Linked DNA regions of Homo sapiens. The protein of the gene in region 1 purifies or fractionates together with the protein of each later gene. This does not show direct contact. Each region holds a gene or a part of one and is shown in the gene's direction. Other genes may lie near its edges. The genes, in order: PRELID2, EXPH5, NCOA4, BORA, FAM83D and ALMS1.

Region 1 (3,500 bases):
GAGTATCTAAACCTGACCCTCTGTCATGGGCATGTAACTCGGAAGGGCTGAACTTCAAGAAAGCAATCACTGTAGTTCCAAGTTTTTTTTTTTTTTTTTTTTTTTTTTTTTTTTTTTGAGACAGAGTCTCACTCTATCACCGAGGCTGGAGTGCAGTGGCATGATCTCGGCTCACTGCAACCTCCGCCTCCCAGGTTCAAGCAATTCTCCTGCCTCAGCATCCTGAGTAGCTGGGACTACAGGCATGCACCACCACATCTGGCTAATTTTTGTATTTTTAGTAGAGACAGGGTTTCACTATTTTGGGCAGGCTGGTCTCAAACTCCTAACCTCAAGTGATCCACCCGCCTCAGCCTCCCAAAGTGCTGGGATTACAGGCATGAACCTCCATGCCCAGCCAAGCATTTTTTTTTCTAGGGCTAAAATGAGTGAATGAATGAATATATAAATAAATAGATTTTTAAAAACCAAGTTTTTCATCAGTTATCAAGATTTCAGTTTCCAGGATGGAAGTGTGAATGACAGAGTTTACCAACATGAAACATGAAGAGATATTGAGGTTGCTGAAAGCTGAGCCACTGCTCTCTTCATAGATTGGTTTCTGACTGAAGGCAGGCTCATTTTCCAAATTGATCCCTGAGGTCATTGAGGTTTATATTCCCAATTTTTTATTTATCCAGAAAATATTGACTGAGTGCTTTTTATGTGCCAGGCATTACGCTGGCTGTTGGAGATACAGGAGTAACTGAAATAGACAGTATTCCTGCCCTCAGAGAGCCTGTGTTCTAATCTAGTGTCTTTTTGGGTCACAGATATCTTTAAGAATGTGTTAAAATGATGAACCCCTTTCCCTGAAAAATCCATTAATAAATCAATATCACACACACACACACACACACACACACACACACACACACGCCTGCTGTGGGTGGAGACCCACAGTCAGAGTTTTGTATTTCACTTCCTAGGGTTCGGAAAACTTAAAGCTCAAGTTTGCAAAGTGAGGGGCCTTTCTTCTTTCTCCCCTCAGCCTGCCTGCTGCTTTTGCCTTCTGCTCAGCACTTTGTGATGTCATGGATAAGACTTCCTGCCAATTTTCTTTTCAGATTTGATCACATGATACGTCGGTAAACCTCAGGGAAGAGAGTCCAAGGGGGCTCAGTAGGCTTTGGTCAGCAGCTACCTTGTCCTGTGGCTTCTAGGAGGTCACTTCTGCTCCCAGTGTCTCTCTTTTCACATCTGAGTAGTGGAAAGGATTGTGTTAATTTAACTCTTAGGTGATTTGGTGGTAGGTTAGGTGGGCAGGCTTTGCAGGCTGGCAGAAAGTATCGGGGGTAAATTATGTTACCCCCCAGATACACTATTCATTAGCTGGACAATTTGAGCAAATTATCTAATTTGTCTAAGCCTTATTTTTCATATATGAAGTGGAAAAAATAACACATACCTTATAGAATGGTTTTGTGAATTAACTGAGCTAATGTATCTAAAGTATTTAAATTGCCTACGACAAAAGCAGTGGCTATTATCAACCTTGTCACAGCCAAATTGCTTTTCAGGGGAATTAAATTAACATGTTAAATATTTATTGAGTATTTACTATGTGCCTAGCAAAGCATACTTCTATGACTATGCTACTGTGATGCTAACCCAGCCACCAGACAATGATATTAGACCACAGTGAAGAGGTCCACTCTGTATTAAACAGGCCTGGTTTAATTCCCTGGCTCCACCAGGAGCCAGCTGGGTGACCCTAAGCAATCCAGTCTTCATTCAGTTTCCGTATCTGAAAGATGGGGATGGTGGTATCACATAAATCAGTTATAACAGAGAGGCTGTTGGATTTAGACAAGATTGTGCAAGGAAAGCATTTAGTACAGTGCCTAGCACAAAGAACACTCTTGATTTATGTTAGGCTGGTTCAATATTAATAGTATTATTATTTACTGATTAGCTTAACCTCATCCCCCTCAGGGCTAGTTGGATCTAAAGAAGGTTTTCCCCAGATTTCATGTAAGTCAAGATGATGATAGCATCTCACTTATCTAGGCCCAAGTTATAAAATTAAGATCCATGATTCAAAACTGGGCTTTGTTTAGAAGTTTCTTGGAAAATATTTACTAGTCCTGCAGACAGCTGTGGTTACTTCTAAATAGTTCACCTTGGTAGAAGATTAATGGTAATTCTTTTTTATATATTTTTGTTTAGTACCCCAACCCCATGGATAAAAATGTCATCTCAGTAAAAATCATGGAGGAAAAAAGAGGTAAGTTCTCTGTACAGTTTTTTCAGTAATGATCATTAAATGATAGTGATTTTTGTAAAGATGTGTGTACGTGTGTGTGTGGCCTATTAGGTTTTTTTTAAAAAATTGTTCACCTGCAGTTTCTTCCATTATTAGTTTTTAAACAGGTATATTTCTGTACTTGAGGTGACTTAGAAAGGTGTGGCAGGTAGAGCACCAGGATTTGTGATAGTAAAAGGCCTGCTGATGCTTTTTGTCACTTTCTAACTAATAATTGATGACAACACTGAGCTATATATAATTGTAACTGCTAACATTTTTGAGCACTTAATATGTGGCAGGTACTCTTATTAATTCATTTAATATTCAGAACAATGTTTGGAATAGGTGTTAGACTACTCATTTAATGAATGGAGAAACTGGGATACAGAGAAGTTAAGTGACTTGCTCAAGGTCACATGGCTGTAGCCTATTATATCATTTTGTAGATGGCAAAATGCATATGATTAAATACGAGATATGACTATAAAGTGATGGCTTATGGAATCACAACTACTAGGCAGTGTGGTTTAGCATTGACTAAATCAGGAGTTGACAAGCTATGGCTTGTGCTGCCTGTTTTAGTAAATAAAGTTTGACTGGAACATAGTCACATTTGTTTACATGTCATCTACGACTGCTTCCTCACTACAACAGCAGAGTTGACCAGTTGCCACAGAGACTTTATTGCCCACAAAACTTAAATTATTTAGCACCTGATTCTTTGCAGAAAATGTTTACTGATTCCTGGTCTAGAGCATAGGAATCTCTTCTGTTCTGTGTTATCCCCATCTCCAGCAAAAACCATTATTAGTGTCAGTGTTTAAACTTGAGAACTGGGCAATGCAGGAAGCTGTGACAATGCACATAGTCAATGTACAAAGCTTTGGGGACACTGGGGCCTAGGTCCAGCATGCTCTTTACCCTTCTTAGGAATCATGAGATGCTACTGTTCATTGTGTGTGACTCTGAAGCCCTCTCTGTGCTTGGTAAACATAACTGCCTTTTGCTTGTATATGCATTTTCTGTAATTCTATAACCATATAGATATATTAAAAATATTTTCTCATGTACCTGCAGTGTGAGAGAAACTTATTATTTGTCATCAGACAAACTGGATTTCAAATCTTGATTTCATTACTACCTTGGTGACCCAACTTTTTGGAGCCTCAGTTTCTTCATCTGTCAAACGGGAAAATAATCTTGTTTTTAGGTT
Region 2 (3,500 bases), on another chromosome or scaffold:
TGACTGGTGAATGGTTTGAAGAAATTCAAAGAAAAAAGTTTTGCAATGAAACAGATGTTAGCCAAATGTTAAAACAACCACTTACATACAGGCTAAGTAAGGAGATGGCAAAAAATGGTAAGAAAAAGATTTTAGATTTAAAGTTGATTTCTTTGTTTCTGTGGCATAGTATTGTAGATAATGGCCCAGTGGATCTCCAATGTAACCAATCCATGTTTAGAACTATTTTAAAGTCATAAGCCACAAAAGTTTATAATACAATATACACTAAAAAAAAAAAGTGAACTGAAATTTTACTGTAATAATGTCTTGGATTTTTTTTTGTTTTTTGGGTTTTTTTGAATCAGGCAAGATAGCATAGTGGGTAGGAATATAGACACTGATGTCAACAGAGGCCTGGATTCAAATCTCTACTCTGTCTCTATTCATGCGAGTCTGTCCAAGTCATTTATTCTCTGTAAACCTCAGTTGCTTCATCTTTAAATGAATGCAATGATACCTACACCTCATAAGGTGGTTACGAGAATTAAGTAAAATTATGTTTATAATGTATTAAGCTGGGCAGGGGGTCGGGGGTGGCTCACACTTGCAATCCCAGCACTTTGGGAGGCAGAGGCAGGAGGATCACTTAAGCTCAGGAGTTTGAGACGAGCCTGGGCAACATGGCGAAACCTCATCTCTACAGAAAAATAAAAGATTAGCTGGACATAGTGGTGCCCACCTGTAGCCCCAGCTACTCTGGAGGCTGAGGCAGGAGGATCATTTGAGCCTGGGAGGCAGAGGTTGCAGTGAGCTGAGATCATGCCACTGCACTCCAGCCTGGGCAACAGCGGTAAGACTGCACCTCAAATAAAAAAAAAATAATAGAATATTAAGCTGGAACAGGGTAAGCACTTAAATAAATGGGATGACTATGATGCAGGGGGAGGAAGAAAAAGGGGAGGGGTGGAGGAAGGGAGAATCAGAGATCAGAGGAGAAGGGAGGGAAGGTGGTGGAGGAGCTGCCACACTTCTGGAACTTTGGTAAACTCCATGAATGACTTCTAATAAATGCCTTCTATATAGATTAAAAGGATACTAAAACTTGCTTTCACAGGACTATTGAGAAGATAACCAAAGTGCACTAGAAACTATAAAATACTAAAATAAAATATCTTTTTACTGACGCGGAGTCACATTGACTGCATTTTTGCATGTTATTAACATTAGTAACATCATGAAACATGTAAAAATACTTCTAAACTTCTATGTTGATAATATCTTGCAACTCTCATAATAAACATATCTACGTAAAAAGACTCACAGTTCAGATTTTTTAGATCACCCCCATACATACCCTGATGACTTTTCCCTTGTCCTAAATTCCCCTAATATTTATAAAGTCAGCATGTCCCAAATCATTATAATATTATGGATTTTGTTTAATTTTATTTATTTATTTATTTTGAGATGGAGTCTCACTCTGTCACACAGGCTGCAGTGTAGTGGCATGATCTCAGGTCATTGCAACCTCTACCTCCCGGGTTCAAGCAATTCTCCTGCCTCAGCCTCCTGAGTAGCTGGGATTACAGGCGTGCGCCACCACACCTGGCTAATTTTTTTGTATTTTTAGTAGAGACGGGGTTTCTCCATGTTGGCCAGGCTGGTCTCGAACTCTTGATCTCAGGTGATGCACCGCCCACCTCAGCCTCCCAAAGTACTGGGATTACAGGCGTGAGCTACCGTGCCTGGCCAATATTATGGATTTTGTATATGTTGATGTTGCCTTTGAATTTTTGATACCCATATATTATCTATACATATATATTATACATAAACAGGTTGAATATCCGTTATCTGACATGTTTGGGACTATAAGTATTTCCAATTTCAGATCTTTTTAGATCCTGAAATATTTGCATTATATAAGCTGAAAAGTTGAGCATCCCAAATCCAAAAATCCCAAATCTGAAAGGCTTCAATGAGCATTTTCTTTAAGCATCATGTTGGTGCTCAAATTTTTTTGGATTTTGGGGAAATTTTTGATTTCAAGTTTTTCGGGTTTAGGATGCTCACCCTGTATATGTTACATGCAAACACATATGTAAACCATGTGTGTAGCAAATACATATCCACAGAGAGAGATTTTGGAAAGGAATGAAGAAAAATCTAAATGGCTTAATTTCCTTTTCCTTTACTTTCTTCAGTATAAGAAGTTATGTAGTATGTATCTATCACCATGGTTTTAAGGTACTGAAATAAAAACTTCTGAAGGACAGCATGGTTAAGGAACATGAGAATTGAATGGGGTCCCTGATTTCCTAGCTTGGGTGAGAGGAGGAACACTCTAGGAACTCTGATTCACAGTACACATGGAAAGATTCCCTACTAATTTGAGTTTTCTCTATGCAGCAGAACCATCAGAGGCGCAGGAGAGAGGTTGCTCTGACTGCCTTAATCCCTGAGGTCTTCATGTGAGGTTGCCTGCCCTGTTTCTAGTCTGCATAAGAGGGAGAAAGTGACACAAGAGCAAAGGCTTCATTCTTTCAAGTATATTTACTTGGAAGTAATTGATGCAAAATTTTTACAATTTTTTTTTCTAGATCCGATAGAATTACCTACATCAAGATCTAAAAATGTAACTAATCAAAAAAAGCCGACACCTTTTTCTTCCCGGATGAGCTTCAGATCGTCATTTGCTTCCCTGTTCTCATTCAGGAAATCTGGAAAGGAGACTTCAAAGCTTCCATCACTGGGACAGAAAGGGTGAGTTAAACTCAGGTCATGTTACGGCCCATTTGTTATCCGATATCAGAGGCCAGCAGCCTGTTTTGTGTTCAAAATGTTTAATGTTTGTTCTTAGAATTTCAATTCAATTGGTATTAAGAACAAAGGAAATGGGACTTAACTTGCATAGTGACAAAGTTCTTAGGAAACCATGAAATGTGGCTCACCTGAAATCCAACTTCTAACGAGCTGCAGAGTGCATTGGTGGTGCATTTGGTGAGTGATGGGTTAAATATTGGGAAATAATGATTGCCAGTTTTTCCACTGCTCCAAGAGTCTGGCCTATGTCCTGTCCAGGAAGATATATTTAAATAAAAACTACTCCTTCTTTGCAGAGTATGTGTCCTGGTCACGTCCTGGTCACGTCCTGGTCATAAGGAGAGTTGGGGTAACGACTAGATGAGAGAAAATGTGAGATGAACAAAGAGACTAGAGAAAAATAGAATTCTAAAACAGAGGGAGGAAATGTAATTACTGTTACTAGAAATACTGAAGGCTGTTCCCATGTGTTTGCTCAGAATGTATAAGGTGAGGGAGGAGAAGCTTTAGGAGCAGTGGAAACTTAGTTCCAGATGGTTCCCAGTTTAGAACTGTGCAAATCAGTTCACTTGACTCATTATGTTGTTGGATTACTTTGTGAAAAACAAGCAAGGCTATGCTTAAGTGCAATTGAGCTGACTGCTAAATATTTTCGGCATGTCTTCCTGGTTTCAAAGCTTCCCACCCTCTTAAGG
Region 3 (3,500 bases), on another chromosome or scaffold:
GAAGGCCATGGCATTTTTTATTACTCTTCTTGCTACTTTTTAGTCCTTTTAAAATTTTCATCCAAGGTTTTCATCTTGACTTTGTTTTCATACAGTTATGTCTGGACACATTGCTTCAACATAGAACGCACATGAACAATGTGGAGGTCTAGGCTGGAATGGGGGCCCAGTTGACCACTTTTGCTCTAGCTGGTAGGCATTAATACTATCTCCATGCATGTCAGTTAGAGGAGCTGCCATATTGTCCTTAGCTTATCTTCTTTGATTGTTAAATCATAACATTGCAATGCTTAACTTCTGATATGAATGACTACAGTCTTAAGTCTTAATCATTCTTTTTTTTTTTTTTTTTTTTGAGACGGAGTCTTGCTCTGTCAGGAGGCTGGAGTGCAGTGGGCGATCTCCGCTCATTGCAAGCTCCGCCTTCCGGGTTCACGCCATTCTTCTGCCTCAGCCTCCCGAGTAGCTGGGACTACAGGCACCCGCCACAACGCCCAGCTAATTTTTTGTGTTTTTTAGTAGAGATGGGGTTTCACCGTGTTAGCCAGGATGGTCTTGATCTCCTGACCTGACCTCGTGATCCGCCCGCCTCGGCCTTCCAAAGTTTTGGGATTACAGGCGTGAGCCACCGCGCCCGGACCACTCTTAGTCATTCTTATCCCAAGTTGTCATCCCTAATTTTGCTTGGCTTGATTAATCAAGATGTTCCTCTTTGGGGTTAGCAGTGTGTTTGGGGGCACCTTTGGGGCTTAATATTCCTCTTATGCAGCATTACCTAAGTGCTCTACAAATATGGCAGTTTGGTTCAGTGAAGTAGTGAGTAGCTCACAAAATAGGTTAAAAGGTTTTGTTGTCAGTTTGGTCATGGGTGAGAAGTTAAGTCTTTTAATACTGAGACAATTTCAGCTTTCAAAAGAAGATAATCTCAGGTGTGTTTTGAGCTTTATTTTGGCATTATTGTTAGTCCTCTAGGCTTTAAAGGAGGGAAAATATTAATATTTTATCACTTGTTGGCTTCTATGGGGAGAACCACAAAGTGTTTGCCATATAAAATCAGGATAAAATGGCATTATTACTGTGATAGTAGGTAAGTTAACATATTTTCCTATCCTTGACTCTATTATGGCAAGAAGTTTCAAGTTGAATATAGTCCCCCCAATATTCAACTTGAAATTCAGTTAGAATTTCTGTGGTACTGCCAACTCTGAAGAAAAAATCCAGAGTTGGCTGTAAAATACAGTAAATGTGTCCCCTTTAACCCACAATCTTGCTGCTATTTGTGTGAATCCATGAAGCTGAGCTTTGTGGTTCTGGCAGCAGGAAAGACACTATCTCAGCACTTATTCTGGGATCATACTTTCAGTGGCAACACCCTTGCCAGCTTTGTCTTGTTTGAAAAAAGCCAAAAGTAATAGTTGTGCTAGAAACATTTTCTTTCTCTGAAAAAACCTTCCTGCATTAATACAGGCCTTAGTGGGACATCAAGTTGATTATCTATGTTTAAAGCAGAACTATACCATACTTACTGTGGCTAGTCTGAACCTAAACATTAATTTATCATATATTCATCCGTTTGTCCAAAATGTCTTAGGCCTCTGTTGAATTTAGGGTGAAGCATTGTACAATTGCCAGGGACATTTTCTCTTTATGTCGATTCAGTGGCACACATAGAATGTGAACGGTTGGTAATGACAAGGTACTGATACCAGGTTGTCTGCTTAGTATTAGGATGTACAAAGCTATTAATTCATAAATAAGACATGGTTTCTTCTCTCATGGAGCCCTCAGGCTAAGGAGGCAGGCATGTAACAATAGGGTAACATATGTTACAGGCGTCCTGCCGGAAACCCATACAGATTACAGTGGTAATGCAGGAGGGAGCAGCCAACTCTATTGGCCAAAAGTATTGAGGAGTGAGGTGCTCAGTCAGGAAAGGCTTTGTAGTTAGTGATGGTGACTTGAAAAGCAGATAGGTAGGGAGAAGAGGAGAGACTGGCATTGCTGACAGAACTGGCATAGCCAAGCTGCACAAGATAAACCAAACTATCCTATGCATAGAAAAGCTGTCCAGTAGATTAGGGTGTGGGAGCTGTTCTGGGAGACAGCAGGAGAGTCAGAGTGAGGCCAGGAAATAGACAGCTGTGATGGTTAATTTTAGGTGTCAACTTGACTGGATTAAGGACATCTAGAAACCTGGTAAAATGTTATTTTGGGGTGTGTCTGTTTCCAGAGGATATTGGGGTGTGAATCCAAGTGGATTAGGTGGGGAAAATCCACCCTCAGTGTGTGTGGGCACCATCCAATCTGCTGGGGCCCAGAGAGAACAAAAACATTGAAAAGGCAGATCTATTTGCTGGAGCTGGGATACATTCTTCCTCTCCTGTCTTTGGACAACAGAACTCCAGGCTCCCCAGGCTTTGGGCTTCAGGACTTGTATCATTGGCCCCCTGGGTTCTCAGGCCTTTGGCTTCAGACTGAGAGTTACACCATCTGCTTTCCTGGTTCTGAGGCCTTTGCACTTGGACTGAGCCATGGTACTGGCATCCCAGGGTCTCCAGCTTGCAGACAGCCTGTCATGGGATGTCTCAGCCTGCTAATCACATGAGCCAGTTCCCCTAATAAATCCCCTCTCATATCTATATCTGTATATATCTTTATGTCTATATCTATGTCTGTCTATATAATGTTCCATCTCTCTGGAGAACCCTAACTCAGGAGCCTTATTGCCTTTAAAAGAAATTTGGACTTTATCCTGTAGGCAAATGGGGAGCCATAGGAGAGCTACGCTGCTTTAGATGAGATGATCTACTTGGGATGGTTGGTTGTTGTTTTGAGACAGCATAGAAATTCTTGAAGCAGAAGAGAGGTAAAATACCTTATGCATTTTTCCCCTTTAGAACCTAAACATTTTATAAAGACACAAGGGCAAATACTGAAGCATAAGGGAGTAAAAAGCTACATGTAAAGTGGTCTGAGTGCAGAATTTTAGATTTTTGTGATTTTCTTTCTCCTTAGTCTTTTTATGTTTATGTAATATTTAATAAATCACATCATTATAGTAACAGCTACAGCTGGCTTGAGGAGAGAAACACAAATGAATATAACTGTGAAACTCAGTGAACATATACATAGGGGAGTAGCTGAAGACTTTACTGTGCTGGGGCGTTGGTCAGGATCTTTTAGAGAGAGAACAGAGACCGTTGGTTAAGTAGGTGACGGCCAACAAAGTTTCTTTGTATTTACATTGTGATCAGCCATTTTTCAGAGGCACATAAAATAGATGAAAGTTCCTGACATGAGTTATATTTTAATAGAATTCCTTCTTTGTTGCCATTGATGTAAATTAGTACAAAGGACCATAAAATTGTAACTTTAGTCATTCAGAAGTATGTCTGTTTTTTTTGTGTCTTTACGAAATGTATTATCCAAGGAGGGCTTTTGGAATTAGGGAGAAATTTTCTTATTTTTGATAATGAATGCCTGGATTGGGGTCCCAGAAA
Region 4 (3,500 bases), on another chromosome or scaffold:
AAGTATAATTGCCCTTTAAAATGACTAGCTTTGCCTTTTCTCCTATTATTAAATATAGGTGACTATTTTAGAGCTGATGAATTTGCAGATCAATCTCCTGGAAACCTCAGTTCTTCATCCCTCAGAAGAAAGCTGTTTTTAGATGGGAACGGAAGCATCTCCGACTCCTTACCTTCGGCTTCTCCCGGAAGTCCTCACAGTGGTGTTCAAACATCACTAGAGATGTTTTATTCAATAGATTTGTCTCCTGTAAAGTGTAGGAGCCCCTTGCAGACACCAAGTTCGGTGAGAAGTATACTAAAAAGCAGTTGGCTAATATGCTGTCAAGCTTGAACCCACATTTTGTTGTTGTTCTATCTTAGGCTTTCAGCAGCCTGAAGCCATGGTTGCTTTCTGTCTCTAGTAAATAAGTGGAAAAGAGGGATGAGGAAGGGCCTTTACTGGCCTAACCAGAAACAGAAACTAAGAACTCATGACTGTATTCTCTCCCTTGGACACCCCTGTGAGCTGCCCAGATTGCTTTCAGAAGGAGGGATGGTTGTCTTTTGAGTATTATGCTTCACAGAAACTAACTCTAGTTCGTATGTTATCATTAGTCATAGGGATGTTTTAGGTCAGACTCTTCAATTTTGTATTTAGATATGTACAGGATGACCAGATTTATCATGAGTCTCAAGGAAATTCAGCATAGGTTATTTACTAAAGTGTGTGAGATTTACAGTATAATACAACTGGCTTGGCATTAATAAATTTAAAAATTTTTCACAGATGGTTGCTTAGTGTGAAACTTAATGGTTTGTTCAAATACAATGTGTTTATATTTTGACTAACATATTTGATACTATTTCAGAATTTTTGTAGCAATCTTCTTAGTTGTCTTTGTTGCAAGGTGTCTTTTGGTGGTTCTCGTGAACTATTACTAGTTTATAAGTGTGTTTTGAAGACCATGATAAATAGCATGCAGCATAAGAGTTAAGGAAGAGAACCATATACATTTATTTACTATTTAATTTTATTACAGGGGCAGTTTTCTTCTAGCCCTATTCAGGCTAGTGCAAAAAAATACAGCTTGGGAAGCATAACTAGTCCTTCGCCTATTTCTTCACCCACTTTCTCACCAATTGAATTTCAGATAGGAGAGACTCCACTCTCAGGTATGTCTCATAATAAAATACCTAGTTAAAAGTTTTATACTATCAATATTTGTTATTAGAGAGGTTCTTTTAATTTGTCTTAATGATAGAGCTCAAAATGATCACTAACCTTCTAACATTTAGGAACTTTGATTTTTAAATAAAAGAACAGTTTACCTTCAAAGGCTGGAATTCTCACCAGTTTGTACTGTAGTGTTAAATATAGTTACTTTAATTAGCAATATTTACATCAAACACTATCAAAGGAAATTTAGCAATTTCCATTTGTGCTATTGTTTTTGACATCACAATTTCACTTTGGTAAACAACACAACTGTTACAGAAATGCAGTTTTTCCTGGCATGAAACATGATTACCATTTAGTAGTGACTTTTCCATTTTCATGTTTTTATGATGTGATTTTTTTTCCCTTCCCACCTTTCAGAACAAAGGAAGTTTACTGTTCATTCTCCTGATGCTTCATCTGGAACAAATTCTAATGGGATAACTAATCCGTGTATCAGAAGTCCTTATATAGATGGCTGCTCGCCAATTAAAAATTGGTCTCCTATGAGACTTCAGATGTATAGTGGTGGTACTCAGTATCGGACCTCAGTGATTCAGATACCTTTTACTCTTGAGACTCAAGGTGAAGATGAGGAAGATAAAGAGAATATTCCTTCCACAGATGTCTCATCACCCGCCATGGATGCTGCTGGAATACACCTACGGCAGTTTAGTAATGAGGCTTCTACCCATGGTACACATTTGGTTGTGACTGCCATGTCTGTTACACAAAATCAGTCCAGTGCTTCTGAGAAAGAATTAGCACTGTTGCAGGATGTTGAAAGGGAGAAAGACAATAACACTGTGGATATGGTTGATCCTATAGAGATAGCAGATGAGACCACTTGGATTAAGGAGCCGGTTGATAATGGCAGTTTACCCATGACTGATTTTGTAAGTGGCATTGCCTTCAGTATTGAAAACTCTCATATGTGCATGTCACCTCTTGCTGAAAGCAGTGTCATTCCTTGTGAAAGCAGTAACATTCAGGTAAGGTATTTAATATTCTATAGCCCCTTCCTCACTGCCTTGGTGTTCTTTATCCTTTCTAAGATTATAGTATAAGAAAGATAATGGATTAAACATGAGGACTACAGTATTATATAATATTTTTTAAAAATATTAATACCAAGTGATATGAGAAGAGTAAATTTATTTTAATTATGACAGATAAGGCATATTTTATATTCACATTAACTGATATTTGTATGGAGTAGGAAAAGGTAAGAGCAGAAAAGAAATTAGCCTGCTCTAGAGAAATCAATCCTGCTAGAGTCAGGCAGGATTCATCACTGTTTCATGTGGATCCAGTCCCCCAAAACATGCAAGGTCTGGTATAGTATTTGCATTCTAAAAATAAAATCATTTTTGTTTTTCCTTTATGTGATTTAGGGGGGATAAAAAGAGTTTAGAGCACTGGTTTTTTTTTTGAGATGGGGTCTCACTCTGTCACCCAGGCTGGAGTGCAGTGGTGTGATCTTGGCTCAGTGCAACCTCCACCTTCTGGGTTCAAGCAATTCTCCTGCCTCAGCCTCCTGAGTAGCTGGGACTACAGGTGTGCGTCACCACACCTGGCTAATTTTTGTATTTTTGTAGAGATAGGATTTAGCTATGTTGGCCAGGCTGGTCTCGAACTCATGACCTCAGTTGATCCGCCCACCTCAGCCTCCCAAAGTGCTGGGATTATAGGCATGAGCCACCGCGCCTGGCCTTAGAGTTCTTTTATGTATGCATTTTTGTGCTTTTCTTTTAGAAACATGATTTATAGCAACATTTTTCATGAAATTATACATTTCCAATTTTGCAATGTCTCTGACAACAGGAAAACCTGATTCATTTAACAGATACGTATACTTCATAATTAGCACTTTGGAAAGGCATTTGTTCCATTCATTGTTGTGTTCTTTGAGCTGAGAATTTTGAAGGAACTTCTTTAGAAGTTCTGACTTTAGTCAGAAGGGGATAGCAATAACATCTAACACTAACGTAGCATTACTATGTGCCAAGTCCTATTCTGAGACCTTTACATGTTTTACTTTGTTGAATTTTTACAGCAATCCTGTGAGGTATGTGTACTGTTATCCCTGTTTTACAGATGAGGAAACTGAGGGTCAGAGAGGTTAAGTAAATTACCTAAAGTTTCTATACAACTAGTAAGTGGAAGAGCTGAGATTTGATCCCAGCAGTCTGGCTTTAGAGTCCATGTTCTTTAATCCAAAAGTTAATACTGACTTATAATAATAGCTAATACGCACATAGTGTTTTGATATACCAGGCACTCTTCTAACCACTTTATTAATT
Region 5 (3,500 bases), on another chromosome or scaffold:
GAATATGAGTAGCTGCCATTTAAGGGCTTTCCATATGCCAGGAACTGCCAGCAAACACTATGAGATAGGTACTGTCAATCATCCGTGGTGAGCTTGAGCCCATGCACTTCATGGGCTACGCCACTGATCCTTTAGTGTTTGTTCTAAGCTTCCAGTCATGTGAAAAACTGCCCATTAAACTTGGTTGGAATGATATAAAATACTGAGTATAGTACTTTTTTTAGATGGCTCCGGAGTCACAGAGACCTGGGTTGAAATTCCAGCCCTTGTACTTGTTTAAGTTTGTCACCTTGAACAAGCTACCTAACCTCTCCAAGCTTTGGCTTTCTCATCTATAAATTGGGGATGACAGGTAATGGGGTTTTGAAATTTCTAGATAGCACTTTTGAGCTTTTGTGCAAGAAGGCAAGCAGAAAAGAGTTCAGTTCTATGTGGCAAGTAACATAAACAGGGTCTGTGACCTTCCCAGAGACCAAGAAGGCCATCATGACGTCTGCTGTTCAACTACATAGGTTCCCAAGTCCCTTGGTACAAATCAGGAGGGGACAGGTAGAAGGACTGAGAGAGGTAGGCTTGTGATTTGTTACCTGAGATGATGATGTGAGAGTGGACACACATGCAGCTGCTCCAGATATGGCTGGAGAAGTGCAGGAACAGTGGGGTCCTGGTCAGCAGGCCGGCCATTATGCCCCTGACCAGCTGGATGCGTCCTCCTCACGTCTCCTGTTGTAACTGACTTGCACTGAGTTGCAAATTGCAAATGGGTGTTGACCCTGGAAGGGACTCTTGAAAGTCACCACTCTCACGACTTTCTAGTCCTTAGAGAGTGGGTGGGCTCCATGCAGCACAGACTGGGAGAGTGCCATGACTGTGGGCACTTGATGTGCAAGGGCTGCCTGCCTTCCAGACATGCCATTGTCCTTCGCACATTATTGCCTCCAGGAGTGGGAGCAGTGGCCAAATACACATCAGGTGTATTTCTGGACCCACAGGCTGCAGCAAGAGCACCGGATACCTAGGAGTTGCATCCTGGCTTGGAAAGCAGGACTCGGCCGGTTAGTGGATGAGTCCAGGTCATTGCTCAGCTCAGTGAAGAGAGTGTCCCTTCAGTCTAGCCCCAGGTCTACTTCAGCTATGCAGGGATTGGTTGCATGAGGGCTGGGACACAGGAATGGGGGATGGGGATGGGGATTTGAAGGAAGACTTCCCTACTGATTGCTTCTACAGTAGGACTATGGACTTTTCCTCTGTAAAAGACAAGTACTTTTGGCTGGGCATGGTGGCTCATGCCTGTAATCTCTGCACTTTGGGAGGCCAAGGTGGGTGGATCACTTAAGCTCAGAAGTTGGAGACCATCCTGGGCAACATGGTGGGATTCTGTGTCTACAAAAATTAGCCAGGTGTGGTGGCGTGTGCCTGTAGTCCCAGCTACTTGGAAGGCTGAGGTGGGAGGATTGCTTGTGCTTCAGAGGCGGAGGTTGCAGTGAGCCGAGATCACACCACTGCACTCCAGCCTGGGCGACAGGGTGAAACTGCATCTCCAGAAACAAAAAAATAGACGAATATTTTTAAGAGTCCTGCTTTAGTAAGAAAGGAGTGGATGCTGGGTGTAGGGGAAGTCAGGGGAAGAAAAAAACCTCCATCAACCCTACGCACCCTGATGGTGTTAAGGACTAGTGTTCAAATCCAACGCACAGGAAAGGGTGAGGCTTTAAAACCAAACAATGGAACAAATAGCAAATTAGGTATTTACTCACCATATAACAAAGGTGTTGCACAATTGTTTTGTTAAGTGGTGAATCAAAATTCAGCTTGGCCGTGCCTTGTGCTGTGGGCCCCCAGGCCCATGCCCCTGCCTCCAGCAGGTCTCTAATCCAGCAGCTGGGCTGGGTTTTTCTGATCTCTGTTCCAGTAGCACTGAGGGAACGTGTCCTTTGGCCCGTCACACTCTGTTACCCCTGGCTTGTCTCCTGTCTCATTAGACTGCGTTCTTGAGGACAGGGATTGACACTAGATCCTCAGTGCTCAACACCTGCCTGCCTCGATTGGGTCCACAATGAAGATTTGAAAGAAGAGTGGGAAATCAGAGAGGCAAGCAGGTGTGTGCATTTTCCTCTTTAGCTTTCTCCTGTGAGCTCTACTCTCATTTGTACACCTGCATATTCCAAACCTCTTTTTGAAGGTTTTACTGCCACCTCAAAATCCGTTTCGAAGCTCACCCCTCACTCTTGCTTCTTGTCTTGTGTTTCCTGTTTCCTTGTATCTGAATATCCCTCTCCCTGTCATCCTCAGCCCATGTCGCCCACTGCTCGGCTCTCCCATGATCTCCTTCCCTCTTCTGCAACCCTCATTGCTTCTGCCGTGCTACTGATTTGTCTTCATCTGGTCTCTAGTCCTCCTAAACATTTATTGAAGTTGCTTAACCTAAAGAATATCCACGTGACTGCTGTGTTGCAGGTCCTGTGTTGGAGGAGGTGGGCCCAGATCTCTGACCTATACCAATCTCTTCTGGCATCAGTTTCTTCCATCCTGTTGGATTCTTCACTTCGAACTCATTACTCTTATACAGGCAATGTGGGGAAGATTGAAACTGATTCCTTGGTTGGCATTCAGGGCCTTCTGTGATCTTGCTCATTCATCCGTCTTTTCCAGTCATGTCCCGTGGCTCCCTTTCATGCATGCTGTACGTTCCAGCCAGACTGGTACATACCCCGTCATGCCCTACCTCTTCCTCTGTTATCATGTGGCTTCCTGCGGGAATGCCTTCTCCTCCCTTCACTTCTCCCATGCCCTTGTCCAAATTTTGTCCTTGTGCTTCAGCTCAAATGCCATCTCCTCCAGGAAGCCTTCCCTGCTCTTATCTGGTAAGCATTTGAGTACCTATAGTGCCCATAGTCCACCACTGGAGGAGACACCTTGTTTTTGTTTTGTTTTGTTTTGTTTTGTTTTTTGAGATGGAGTCTTGCTCTGTTGCCCAGGCTGGAGTGCAGTGGTGCGATCTCGGTTCACTGCAACCTTCACCTCCCAGGGTCAAGTGATTCTTGTACCTCAGCCTTCCTAGTAGCTGGGATGACAGGTGCATGCCACCATGTTCATCTAATTTTTTGTATTTTTAGTAGAGATGGGGTTTTACCGTGTTGGCCGGGCTGCTCTCAAACTCCTGACCTCAGGTAATCCACCCACCTCGGCCTCCCAAAGCACTGGGATTACAGGCATGAGCCATCATGCCCGGCCCCCTTAGTTTAATTGCTTAGGCTGTATATATCATTTTGCCTCTCTGCATCCTGTGTCCTCTCCTTGAGGTAAGTTGGGTCTATGTCAAATTCCTCATAGCCATCTTTCTGCCTAGTGCAGTGTGCAGCCCACAGCGTGCTCTGAGGAGGTGCTGGCTGCATAATAGCACCTGTTTCCTGCCTTGCCCTCCCTGTGCTAAGCCCTTTCCATGCTTTGTTTCACTTAATCCTCACAGCAGCCCTTTGACCCAGATGCTATTAATTTTG
Region 6 (3,500 bases), on another chromosome or scaffold:
GAATGGGTGATGGAATTAGGATCTCTTACTTGGGCATCAGTTGAGTTGCTGATAATATTTGGCTAAAGCCTTTTTTGGTTTTGTTTTTGAGACAGTCTTGCTCTGTTGCCCAGGCTGAAGTGCAGCAGTGCAATCACAGGTCACTGCAGCCCTGAACTCTTAGACTCAAGGAATCCTCCCACCTCAGCCTCTCAGGTAGCTGGGACCACATGTGTGTACCGCCCTGCTCGGCTAATTTTTAAATTTTTGGCAGAGACAGGGTCTCTACGTTGCCCAGGCTGGTCTTGAACGCTTGGATTCAAGCGATCCTCTTGCCTTGGCCTCCCAAAATGCTGGGATTACAGGCATGAGCCACTGTGCCTAGGCAGGCATCTTAATTTTTCAAAAGTTAAGATATAAGTATTAGATTCTTACAGTCTAGATATGTTGTTTTTATTGATTCCAAATTCATATTTTGAAAAATTTATCTTCTTAGAAAAATAAGAACTGATTTGCTTGTTTTATCAATTTTTTTTTTAAGAACAGAGAAGACTAAATGTCACCCTTATTTTCTCTTGAAAGTGGTATCTTGAAATCCAGCTATTTTCAAATGTTTATTTTAAATACTTGAGTACACAGCTATAATAGCTTATGTATAAATGGCTTTCATTTTAATAGTACATATTTTCCTTCTATTAACTATTTCATATGTAGAAAAGAGCATATATGAATCATTTATGTAAAGAATAGCAGCAAGTAAAAATAATTCCCATATATTTACTATCGAGCTTGAGAAATAGAACATTACCAAATACTGTTGAAGTTCTTTGTTTCTCCTTTCCCAGTCATATCTTTTTTATTTCTTATTTTGATATATAATGATTTTCCTTCTCTTCAGTATGGTTTTGAACTCTAAGATGGAATCAATATGATACATATTCTTTTGAGAACTAGGTGTTTCACACAGTGTTAGGGTTTTGAGCTGCTTCTATGTAGATGTGCAGAGTTTTCATTTGTTCCTTATTACTGTACAGTATTCCAGTGTGTGATTACATGATAATTTATTCTTTCTCCTGTGGATAAGGCATTTTGTCTGCTATTTTGCATAGTAATAGGGTATAATAATGCCTATCGTAGAGGGTTTTGGTGTGGATTATGTGAGATAATGCCTATAAAATGCTTAGTAGAACGTGTGATGTCTAGTTAGTACTCAGTAACTGGCAGCTATTATTACTATTATTAATCCTGAAAGAATTGATATAGCTATCATGCAAGGATTTCATGGCCTGATTCATACAAAGTTTCTTAGAAAACTATTCTCCAGTGATATAGTTTATTTGGATTATCTCAATTTTGGAAAAGTTTGAAAAGTACAAATTAGATTGGATTTTAGGTTTTACGTATATGCTTGTGAAAAACAAAATTGACAAAATAATAAGAATAATAAAATGGGCAATTGGTTGTCTTAGCACCATTTGTATATATGCTGCCAAAGTGAGCACTATCCTAGCATCATTTGTTTAAAATTACATAGTTTTCTCAGTGATCTGTGTTTCCCTATTTTTAAAAATTATTTTCTTGCGTTCATATTTCCAGATCCCTCAGCAAGCAAGTTGCCTTCCTTTGGGTAGACTCTGGTTTGTCTGTGTTTTTCTTAAAATAAGGTGTCCTGAATTAGATGAAACACAATTTCACTTCTGATCTGACCAGCATGAAGTATATTCAGTAATTCTCTTTCTGTCAATGTACTGTGAGATCTTTAATGGTCACAGCATAATTGGGCATTAAAAAAAACCATGTACTGCTTTCAAAACTTAAAGCTGTAGGAAAAAAGCAAAGCAAAACAAACCAAACAAAAACCATGAACTGCTGCCAAGATTCCTATTCTCATTTCTTGTATCTATATAATACTTTTTTAAAAATCTTCTTATTTTTGAGACAGAGTCTCACTTTATTGCCCAGGCTGGACTGCAGTGGCATGATCTTGGCTCACTGCAACTTCTACATCCCAGGTTCAAGTGATTCTCCTGCCTCAGCCTCCCGGGTAGCTGGGATTACAGCTGTGTGAGTGGCGCATGACACCACATCCAGCTGATCTTTGTATTTTTAGTAGAGATGGGGTTTCACTATGTTGGCCAGGCTGGTCTTGAACTCCTGACCTCAAGTGATCCGCCTGCCTCGGCCTCCCAAAATGCTGGGATTACAGGCCATTACGCCTCGCCCTATGTAATACTTTTTAACTCTCCTGTATTTCTTTTTATTGCTTTTATATCAGTGTTCAAGCCTATTGGAATGATTTTTAATCAAATTTGATCATTTATTTTATTAAAATATCCCTTTCAGCTTTGTGCCATTTATATATTTGATAAGTATTTTTATCCAAATTAGCAATAAAAATGTTTACTAAGGGCTATGGATAAAAAGTCTAAAACTTTTGGCTGGGCGCGGTGGCTCATGCCTGTAATCCTAGCACTTTGGGAAGCCAAGGTGGGTGGATCACTTGAGGTCAGGAGTTCGAGACCAGCCTGGCCGACGTGGTGAAACCCCGTCTCTACTAAAAATACAAAAATTACCTGGGTGTCATGGTGCATGCCTGTAATCCTAGCTACTCGGGAAGCTGAGGCAGGAGAATTGCTTGAACCTGGGAGGTGGAGATTGTAGTGAGCCGAAGATTGTGCCAGTGCACTCCAGCCTAGGCGACAGAGGGAGACTTTGTCTCAAAAAAAAAAAAAAAAAAAAGGTCTAAAACTTTTGAATAAGATTACTCTCACACCTATTTTGAGTACTTCACTATACTGTCATTCAACCATCTTGTGTTTCACCATCTTATGATTGACTTTTTTCAGTCTATTAACTGAGTAGTTGCGAAATAGTGTTTGTCTAGATATGCCTTGTCCTTAGGGAACCCATATTGGCCACACTGTGTACGGTTTTGGACCTTTTATTTTTTTAACTTAAATATATTAGGATTTCCCTTTAAAACTTCTCTAAAAGCATAATTTCACAGGTATGTAATATCCCATTGTATGAACATAACAATTTATTCACTACCCTACTGTTGGACATTTATTCATTCATTCCAAAAATACATATTGAATGCCTGATATGCGCCATCCTCATCTATAGCCTGAGGACACACCACTGAACAAAATAGACAAACATTTCTTCATCATGAGCTTACATTAAGGAAGAGTATATGAATAACAACCAAACAAGTAAAATAAATGTCAGATGGTGGGATAAGAGCCAGGGAGACAAAGCAGAATGGTCAACACAGAACCTGAGAAAGAGGTATTGAATTAAATATCTGAGTAAGGTGAGAAAGTAAGGCAGTTAACAGTGACAAGAGCATTCCAGACAGAAATAGCATGCACACAGTTGCTGAGGTAAAGTGTGTGAAAGGAAAGGGAGTGTTAAAGGAAAGGGAGGAGGCCAGTGTGTTTGGAGAGTGAGAGTGAAAGGGAGAAGACTAGATTGTGGAAGGCAGTGGTTCTTGACGGGTAGTAAATGCCTCCCAAAGA

What was found.
Region 2: the proteins of PRELID2 (region 1) and EXPH5 purify together in Homo sapiens (affinity purification with mass spectrometry; one large-scale study listed by BioGRID and IntAct). This does not show direct contact.
Region 3: the proteins of PRELID2 (region 1) and NCOA4 purify together in Homo sapiens (affinity purification with mass spectrometry; one large-scale study listed by BioGRID and IntAct). This does not show direct contact.
Region 4: the proteins of PRELID2 (region 1) and BORA purify together in Homo sapiens (affinity purification with mass spectrometry; one large-scale study listed by BioGRID and IntAct). This does not show direct contact.
Region 5: the proteins of PRELID2 (region 1) and FAM83D purify together in Homo sapiens (affinity purification with mass spectrometry; one large-scale study listed by BioGRID and IntAct). This does not show direct contact.
Region 6: the proteins of PRELID2 (region 1) and ALMS1 purify together in Homo sapiens (affinity purification with mass spectrometry; one large-scale study listed by BioGRID and IntAct). This does not show direct contact.

Annotation. Positions count from the first base shown.
Region 1 is NC_000005.10:145,821,843-145,825,342, reverse strand, and holds part of PRELID2 (PRELI domain-containing protein 2), read left to right. Parts: intron 1-2,208; coding exon 2,209-2,266; intron 2,267-3,500.
Region 2 is NC_000011.10:108,538,269-108,541,768, reverse strand, and holds part of EXPH5 (exophilin-5), read left to right. Parts: coding exon 1-117; intron 118-2,582; coding exon 2,583-2,745; intron 2,746-3,500. UniProt on the Homo sapiens protein: May act as Rab effector protein and play a role in vesicle trafficking.
Region 3 is NC_000010.11:46,024,124-46,027,623, reverse strand, and holds part of NCOA4 (nuclear receptor coactivator 4), read left to right. Parts: intron 1-95; exon of another isoform or gene 96-158; coding exon of another isoform or gene 159-192; intron 193-3,500. UniProt on the Homo sapiens protein: Cargo receptor for the autophagic turnover of the iron-binding ferritin complex, playing a central role in iron homeostasis. Acts as an adapter for delivery of ferritin to lysosomes and autophagic degradation of ferritin, a process named ferritinophagy.
Region 4 is NC_000013.11:72,744,923-72,748,422, forward strand, and holds part of BORA (protein aurora borealis), read left to right. Parts: intron 1-58; coding exon 59-285; intron 286-1,021; coding exon 1,022-1,154; intron 1,155-1,578; coding exon 1,579-2,189; intron 2,190-3,500. UniProt on the Homo sapiens protein: Required for the activation of AURKA at the onset of mitosis.
Region 5 is NC_000020.11:38,936,417-38,939,916, forward strand, and holds part of FAM83D (protein FAM83D), read left to right. Parts: intron 1-3,500.
Region 6 is NC_000002.12:73,455,336-73,458,835, forward strand, and holds part of ALMS1 (centrosome-associated protein ALMS1), read left to right. Parts: intron 1-1,767; exon of another isoform or gene 1,768-1,991; intron 1,992-2,605; exon of another isoform or gene 2,606-3,500. UniProt on the Homo sapiens protein: Involved in PCM1-dependent intracellular transport. Required, directly or indirectly, for the localization of NCAPD2 to the proximal ends of centrioles.